Homo sapiens: one gene and its partner. The protein of the gene in region 1 interacts with the protein of each later gene in a biochemical or structural test. Each region holds a gene or a part of one and is shown on either strand. Other genes may lie near its edges.

Region 1 (3,752 bases):
GTGGGCTAATCAAGCCCATGATGGTATGATGGCTGCCCCAGGTGCTGCTGATCTGCAGGGGGTGGGGGCAGTCAGATAGGAAGAGAGCGAGAAGCATCACCTCCACAATGCGATCCTGGGCCCGGAGCCCTGAAGCCTCAGCCGGGGAGTCTGGGTCCACTGACCGGATGAACTGGCCTGGCTTGGACTTGTCGCTGTGCAGGTTGAAGCCATAGCCACTGGGGCCCTTCTTCATGGTACAGAGCCGAGGCCGAAGCTCGCGCTGCAGGGACAGGGGAGGGTCCATGGCTATTCCACAGTGCCCCAGGTTCTGCCTTCCCTGTCCTCTGCCTGTCCCCATCTCCCCAACCAAGGAAGGTTTGGGAGGATGCAAATTTGCCTAGATCCCTACACAGCAATTTGAGAGGGTTCTGGCCCAGGACTCAAAAGACTTGTGTGGATACCCAGCACCGCAGCTAACTGCTTAGGTGATGTGGATAAAACACTGCTCTGTCCAAGCCTCAGTTTCCTCTTCTGCCAAATGAGGGGTAGGACCAGGTTAGCTCTCACATGCCTGTCCCTTCTGACAGTCTAAGGTGAATCACATGCTGTGTTGATCGGGCCTCTATCCCTCCCCATTGGTGGCTCAGTCTGGCCCTCCTGGAGAGGGGGCAGAGTGTGGCACCCGTCAGCCTGGCTGGGGACCTGGGGCATATGACTGAGGACCCCCAGCCCCTTTGTACCCCGTTCTCTGCAGCAGGGGAGGAAGAGGCAGGTGTTTACTGAAAGCTGGTCAGTGTGTTTACAGTAAAGCCTTCCTCCATATACTCGAACTCTCTCTCACCCCCACCAAGCCGAATGGCCCAGCCAAAAGGGAGCCAGAAGGAGCAGATAACCAAAAACTTATTGTTCAGCACAGCAAGGGGACCTGGACAAGACGGGGCCATCCTCAGGCGTTCCAGGACCTCCTCCCCCGACACCGCTGCCCAAGGGCAGAGGTGGCAACGGAAGCACAGAGACCCCAGAAACAGAGGAGCCTGAATGGGGAGGGGACTGGGAAAAGCAGGGCTGGGCTAAAGGGAGCCCAGTGTGGCTGTGGCCTGGAGGGTGTGACCTACTAAAAGGGCACACGCAGATTTCGAGTGCTTGGACTCAGCTGAAAACAGTTTCCAACATGCTTGGTCCAAAGTAAGCAGCTCAGCTTAGAAGCTGCAGGCCTGGACACACAGTATGATGGAGGGAATATGGGTGTAGGCAGCCGAAGCCTGTGCCCAAGGACTACGCCTGAGTCCCTGTCCCTCTCCCCCTCCTCCAGGCCTGGTGCAGGGCCACTGGCTGCTGTCCAGCCTGCTGGCCCTGTGTTATCACTCAGCACATCAGACAATGAGCAGTGGATAGTCAAGGCTCCCAGCCAGGTTCCAGCTCCCCTGTTTAGGAGCTGTGTGACCTGGGGCAGGTCATTTATGGATCATTCTGACTGCCATCTGCCTCCCAGGGTTGCTGAGGCCCAGTGAGGTCATTGACTTAAACACTTTCTAACTGTAAAAAATCCCTGTGCACACCCAGACTTTCCCATTGTTGTGAATACTAATGAATAGTCATAGGAAGCTGGGAGTGAGATTCTGGTGGGGTGGGGGTGTGTGTGCCAGGCTGCTCTGAAACCCAAATCCCCAGCTGGGAGTGGAGAGGGCCGAGAGGGGTGGGAAGGCGCGCCCAGGAGGGCTTATGGGCCTCTGTCCCAACTTGCCAGCCCCAGGAGGCCGCCACCATCTGCAGGAGACTCAATCCCCAGCCTTTCGATCTCTGGGGGTGGCTAGAGGATGACTTTGCATTCCTTTAAAGGCTTGGGCAGGTCTTTCTTGCCTGGGTTTTCATACCCAAATCCAGGCTCGAGGACCCCTCACCCCAACAACAAAGACGGTTAAGTGAGTGGTAAAAACGTGAGTGGCTCACAAAGGCTCAGGAACCCTGAATGAAGCTCCTCTTGCCTTGTTCTCCCTGGCCCACCCCCTGCCTCACTGCAGGGCCCACTCCCAGCTAGTTCGGCTGTCACCTGCCCCAGGCTCACCCCCCGGCACTCCCACAGCCCTGTGGGATCTTGTTCCGGGAGTAAGTGAGGCTCTTCTCCCCTAGAGCTAATCCCTCCACAAAGCTCCCAGCCAGGCCCTCCCCCGGGCCGCCTAGGTGAGCAGAAACAAGTCTGACCAGTCGCCGTCACCAGGACAGGCGCAGCTTTCTGCTTCAGCCAGACACCCTGAGAAAGTGGGGAGGGTGAAATCTCAGGACAGGCAGGGGGCAGCTCTAGTGACCTCCTCCAACCTCCCTCCACCGTCCCTGCGCTCCCAAAAACCTTCCCATAACAACCTGACTGGGGCTTGTCAGCTGTTTTTGAGATGGGGAAACTGAGGCTCAGAGATGTGGAGCCCACTGCCTGACATCACACAGCCAGAACTCCAACCCTGGTCTCTGACTTGGAACCTGTCCTCCTTCCACCACACTGCAGGGTGCTCCTTAAGGATCCAAGTCCAGAATGGGGCAACCCATTGGGAGGTGAGGACCCAACAGGAGTCAGGCAGCAGAGGGCAGACAGGGGCTCTCTCCAGGGCATCGGCTGCAGCCTCTGCTGGAGGTAGGCTGGGAGCTGAAGAAACCACAACCTACCACAGCCTTCCTTCCGGGCGCTCAGGGCCTCTCGCAGCTGGAGCTGCAGCCTGAGCTGGGGGATGAAGCCTGGTGTGGGTGACAGGGCAGGGGCATGGCTGGACTGGGGGCAGGTGGCTCTGGGCGCCCCCCCCGGCTGGCAGGGCAGGGCTGTGCTAGCTGCCTTTGGGATGCCCATCCTCTGGCCCTGGTCTCTGTGCTGTGGGCTTCCCTTACTGATCTTCAGCCCAGTGCCCCTCGCCTAGTGACATATGGTGCCAAAGCTCCAGGGCCTGCTTTGAGCCTTGCTCCGCTCTGCCAGCACCAAGTCGTGCAGTTCAAGGGGAAACAGGGTACCCAGCCTGAGGGGCTCAGGTGCCCTCTGTTTCCTTCCCCTGCACTGGGACCTGCTCCACTGTTCTGTCTAGATGTGGCTCTGTGGCGGCTCCAGGACCTGAGGGGGTGGCTGGACAAGGAGATGGGAAGCCCCCGGTAGACCCCACCAGCATTTAGACAGCTCCGATGCACCTGCAGAGCCTCCTTCCCAAGTCCCTAGAGACTTCCTCCCCTCACATGGGAAGGGGGGTTCCCACTCTTCAAGGGAGACCAGCCTTGTTCCTCCTCACCCCTCCCTAGCAGGAGCCTCCCAGCTGTCTCCAGGAGGTGTCAGTGCCAGTTGCTGAGTCAGCCCATCAAGCCAGCCCATCCCAGCCTGGGTGGAGGCTGGGGCTGGCAGGGGAGTCCCTTGGGGCAGCCCCCCTGGGGATCTGTGGGGCCTGGCCTGTGGTCTCCAGGCCCAGCACTGAGAGGAGAAGATGGGGAGGTGTGGGGTACCTGGCCGAGCTCAGCCACCATTGCTCTTGGACCCTCACCGCCAAGCTGGGGCAGGGCTGGGTTCTGCCTCTGGGGAAAGGGGATAAATGGGAGTGACGTCCAGGCATGTTGGGCTTGGTGTGTGGCCCCCAGGATCTTAGGAGGAGCCAGCTACAGAGGGGTCCGAAGCATGGTGGGAGGAGGAGACTCAAAAGGAACATAGCCCCAGTGAGTTCCGGAGGGCAAAGTGGGACCTCCAGTGACGACGACAGCCTGGGAGACCCAAGTTCAAGACAAAATCAGGATCTGCTCAGAGAGGA
Region 2 (3,752 bases), on another chromosome or scaffold:
TTTCCCTGTACTGAGACCTGCTCTGCCCTCCATACTGGAAGGGGGAGGTAGCCAGATTCCTGCTAACTCCTGCCCTGGGTGTGGGGACCTCAGGGACCTTAGGGACTTAGGGACAGTAAGCACCTGGCACCCTGCCTGCTGCCACCTTAGCAAGGTGTAGTCACTACTGGATGCAGTGTCAAGAAACAGGTTCTAGTCCCAGTTCTGCCATTTACCAGCTGGCAAACCTTGGGCACTTTTTCCTCGGTCTTCAGTACGCTCATCCACAGAATGGGGATAATCACCCCTCTCAGGGGAAGTAAGGATTCACCATGGGTTAGGGTTCATTCCTGCCGACAGGGGCTGGGCCTCACTGACACTCATCATTATAGCCAAAGATGGGAAGTAGAAAATGAAAAGATAGAACCACGAGCTGCTCCAGTCTTTAAGAGGGAGAAGAACATTCACTGAGCACCTACCCTGTATTATTAGTTCATTTAAACCTCAGAATGATCCTGCAAAGTCAGTGTTATCATAACCATTCTGCAGGTGAGAAACTGAGGCTCAGAGAAGTGAAGCAACATGTCCAAGATCACACAGCCAGCCAGATTCTGGCGCTTGTGTGAGGAGGGAGCACACAGTACCTTCTCTTGCCCACCTCGATATAAACAGATTGGGTGGCTGGGCCACAGCCAGGCCTCACTGCCCCTTGGGAGGTCCTGTTTCAGGCCCAGATGCTGGTAGGACAAAACATCAAGTAGGTGCTACCATCTTATCTCTTTCCCACAGCTTAGAGTTTCCCAGCAGGCGGACACTCAGGCACCTTCCCAGGGTAGCAGCTGGTGTGCCGGCTCCCTCCTTTACCAAGTCAGGTCTTGTCTGAGGACCTAACACTCACAGGGCCACCAAACCGGATATTCCTTCGAGGCTAAGAAGGGAAAAATGAGAGAAAATGGGAGGGCCTGCAGTCTAGAGTCACAGCCCAGGGCCCCATATGTACAAATGCCTCCTTCCAGATGGGCCACCCAGGGACCACCCCAATGCCAGCTCCATGCTCTCCTGGGATCTGTAACAGCTCAAGAAAAGTAGATGCTCTGAGTTTACTAACTAGAGAATAAGGCAAGGAGTCAGAATCTGGCCTGCCAGGAGGGCCCTGACCCCACTCCAATAAAAACTGGCACACAATAAACTATAGGGATGCCAATTAAGCCAGTTCTATGATTTCCAAAGTTGGCTAGTAATGAAAGGCCCAGGGAATGAGAACTAAAGAAGGCAATACTGCTATTCCAGATGTTTCTCCCTGGGCCCAGCTCAGATCCCTTGCTCCCATAACAGGAAGCCAACACCCATGGGATCCCAAAGAGCATAGCTCCTCACCTCATTTGGCCTGCAGACTGGGCGGACTGAGGCTGGATGGGAAGCTCTCAGCCTCAGGAGGCCAGACCTGACAATCACATAGGAAAAGGAGAAGAAGGTCAGGGACCACCTCTCTCAGGTCACCTCCCTCGGGCCAGGAGACCTGGTATAAAACTTGTATCCTTCTTTCCCTTCCCAACCACTTCCTCTATGCTACAGAAGGGACACCAAACAAGTCTGTTCTTCCTGCTCCAAAGTGACAGGAGGGGTATCATCACTCCTCCCACCCTTCCCTGCTGAAAACATCTTTTTCCTCAACTGGTCCTGGGCCTTTTTTTTTTTTTTTTTCTTTGAGACACGGTCTGTCTCACCCAGACTGGAGTACAGTGGCATGACCTCAACTCATTACAACCTCCGCCTCCCAAGCTCAAGCGATTCTCCTGTCTCAGCCTCCTGAGCAGCTGGGATTATGGGCGTGAGCCACTACCGCCTGGCTAATTTTTGTATTTTTAGTAGAGACGGGGTTTCACCATGTTGGCCAGGCTGGTCTCAAACTCCTGACCTCAAATGATCTGCCCACCTCGGCCTCCTAAAGTGCTGGGATTACGGCGGTGAACCACTGCACCCGGCCCTTCCTGGGCTTCAATGCCCCACTCGGTCTCCAGCCAAGCCAGAAGAACTAATGCTGTCGGCACTCTGATCTATGCCTATGCCACCCACAGGATCATTTACTGGCAAGCTGCTTTCTTGTCTGTGGCTACTACTCAAAAACAGACAGGGACCATCTCAGTCTCACTAAAGGTTCCCTGCGGAGTAGGCTCAAAAGACAGACAAGGTGAAGAAATGGAAAGGCCTAGGACTGGGAATCAGGAATTCCAGGTTTCTCACAGGCCTCCAGTTTATCCATCTGTATGCTGATGGCCATCTCTAAGGTCACTTTCAGCTTTTTTTTTTTTTTTTTTTTTTTTTTTTTTAGGCAAGGTCTCCCAGGCTGGAGTGTAGTGGCGTGATTTCAGCTCACGGTAACCTCCACCTCCCTGGGCTCAAGCAGTCTTCCTACCTCAGCCTCCCAAGTGGCTAGGACTATAGGTGCATGACACCACACCCAACTAATTTTTGTATTTTTTGTAGAGATGGGGTTTCACCATGTTGGCCAGGCTGGTCTTGAACTCCTGGGCTCAAGCGATCGCCTGCCTCAGCCTCCCAAAGTGCTGGAATTACAGGCGTGAGGCACAGCACCTAGTCTTTTTTTTTTTTTTTTGAGACAGGGTCATGTTCTGTCTCAAGAAAGAGCTGGGTGGAGCACAGTGGCACCATCTTGGCTTACTGCAACCTCCACCTCCTGGGCTCAAGAGATCCTCCCACCTCTCAGCCTCCCAAGTAGCTGGGATTACAGGTGCCCACCACAATGCCCAGCTAATTTTTTGTATTTTCTTGTAGAGATGGAGTTTCACCATGTTGCCCAGGCTGGTCTCGAATTCCTGAACTCAAGGAATCCACCTGCCTCAGCCTCCCAAAGTGCTGGGATTATAGGCGTGAGCCACCATGCCCTGCCACTTTCAGCTTCCTGACTTGAAATGTCTCCCCGCAAATAAGTATTAATTACTCCACCGCAGGCCTGAGGAGAAAAAGGTGAATGAGCCTCTTCCCAGTCCTGAAGCTAATCAGTCTAATGAACTGGTAATGACAACATATTCTTATCCTTCTGGGCCACTTCTATTAGCCTCATATACTGCTGAGAGAGTCGAAAGTGCTGAGCTAAGTCAGGGAAGGTAAGAGCAGGCAGGTGACTGCTAAGACACTTCTGTTCTACCTGTCTGACACCTGATATCCTGCAGGGACGAAAGGCCATATTTATGGATGGTGAAGGCAGTGGAAACTGTACTGACCTGGGAGTCAGAAACCCTAAGTCCAAGTCCTAGTTCTGCCACTAATATGCTGTGATCTTAAGAAAGTTACTCTTCTCTCTGGGCCTCAGTTTCCTCATCTATGTAAGTAAGGGCTGAGCTGGTCAATCTATTAAGATCCCTTACAGGCCAGGCATGGTGGCTCATGCCTGTAAACCCAGCACTTCGGGAGGCTGAGGCAGGTGGATCGCCTGAGGTCAGGAGTTCAAGACCAGCCTGGCCAACATGGTGAAACTCCATCTCTACTAAAAATATGAAAAATTAGCCAGGTGTGGTGATGGGTGCAATCTCTGCCTCCCAGCTACTCAGGAGGCTGAGACAGGAGAATCACTTGAACCCGGGAGGCAGATGTTGCAGTGAGTTGAGACTGCGCCACTGCACTCCAGCCTGGGTGACAGAGCGAGACTCCGTCTCAAAAAAAAAAGATCCCTTACAGTGCAGTCTATGGTTTTTTTAATCTACTCATGCCATGTAGCTAATAGTCACCTCAGTAAGGTAGCCTGTGACCTG

The links.
Region 2: the proteins of NHERF1 (region 1) and TBC1D10A form a complex in vitro, tested with the Homo sapiens proteins (2 studies listed by BioGRID and IntAct).

What each region holds. Positions count from the first base shown.
Region 1 is NC_000017.11:74,758,522-74,762,273, reverse strand, and holds part of NHERF1 (Na(+)/H(+) exchange regulatory cofactor NHE-RF1), read right to left. Parts: intron 263-3,752; coding exon 101-262; intron 1-100. UniProt on the Homo sapiens protein: Scaffold protein that connects plasma membrane proteins with members of the ezrin/moesin/radixin family and thereby helps to link them to the actin cytoskeleton and to regulate their surface expression. Necessary for recycling of internalized ADRB2.
Region 2 is NC_000022.11:30,320,315-30,324,066, forward strand, and holds part of TBC1D10A (TBC1 domain family member 10A), read right to left. Parts: intron 1-3,752.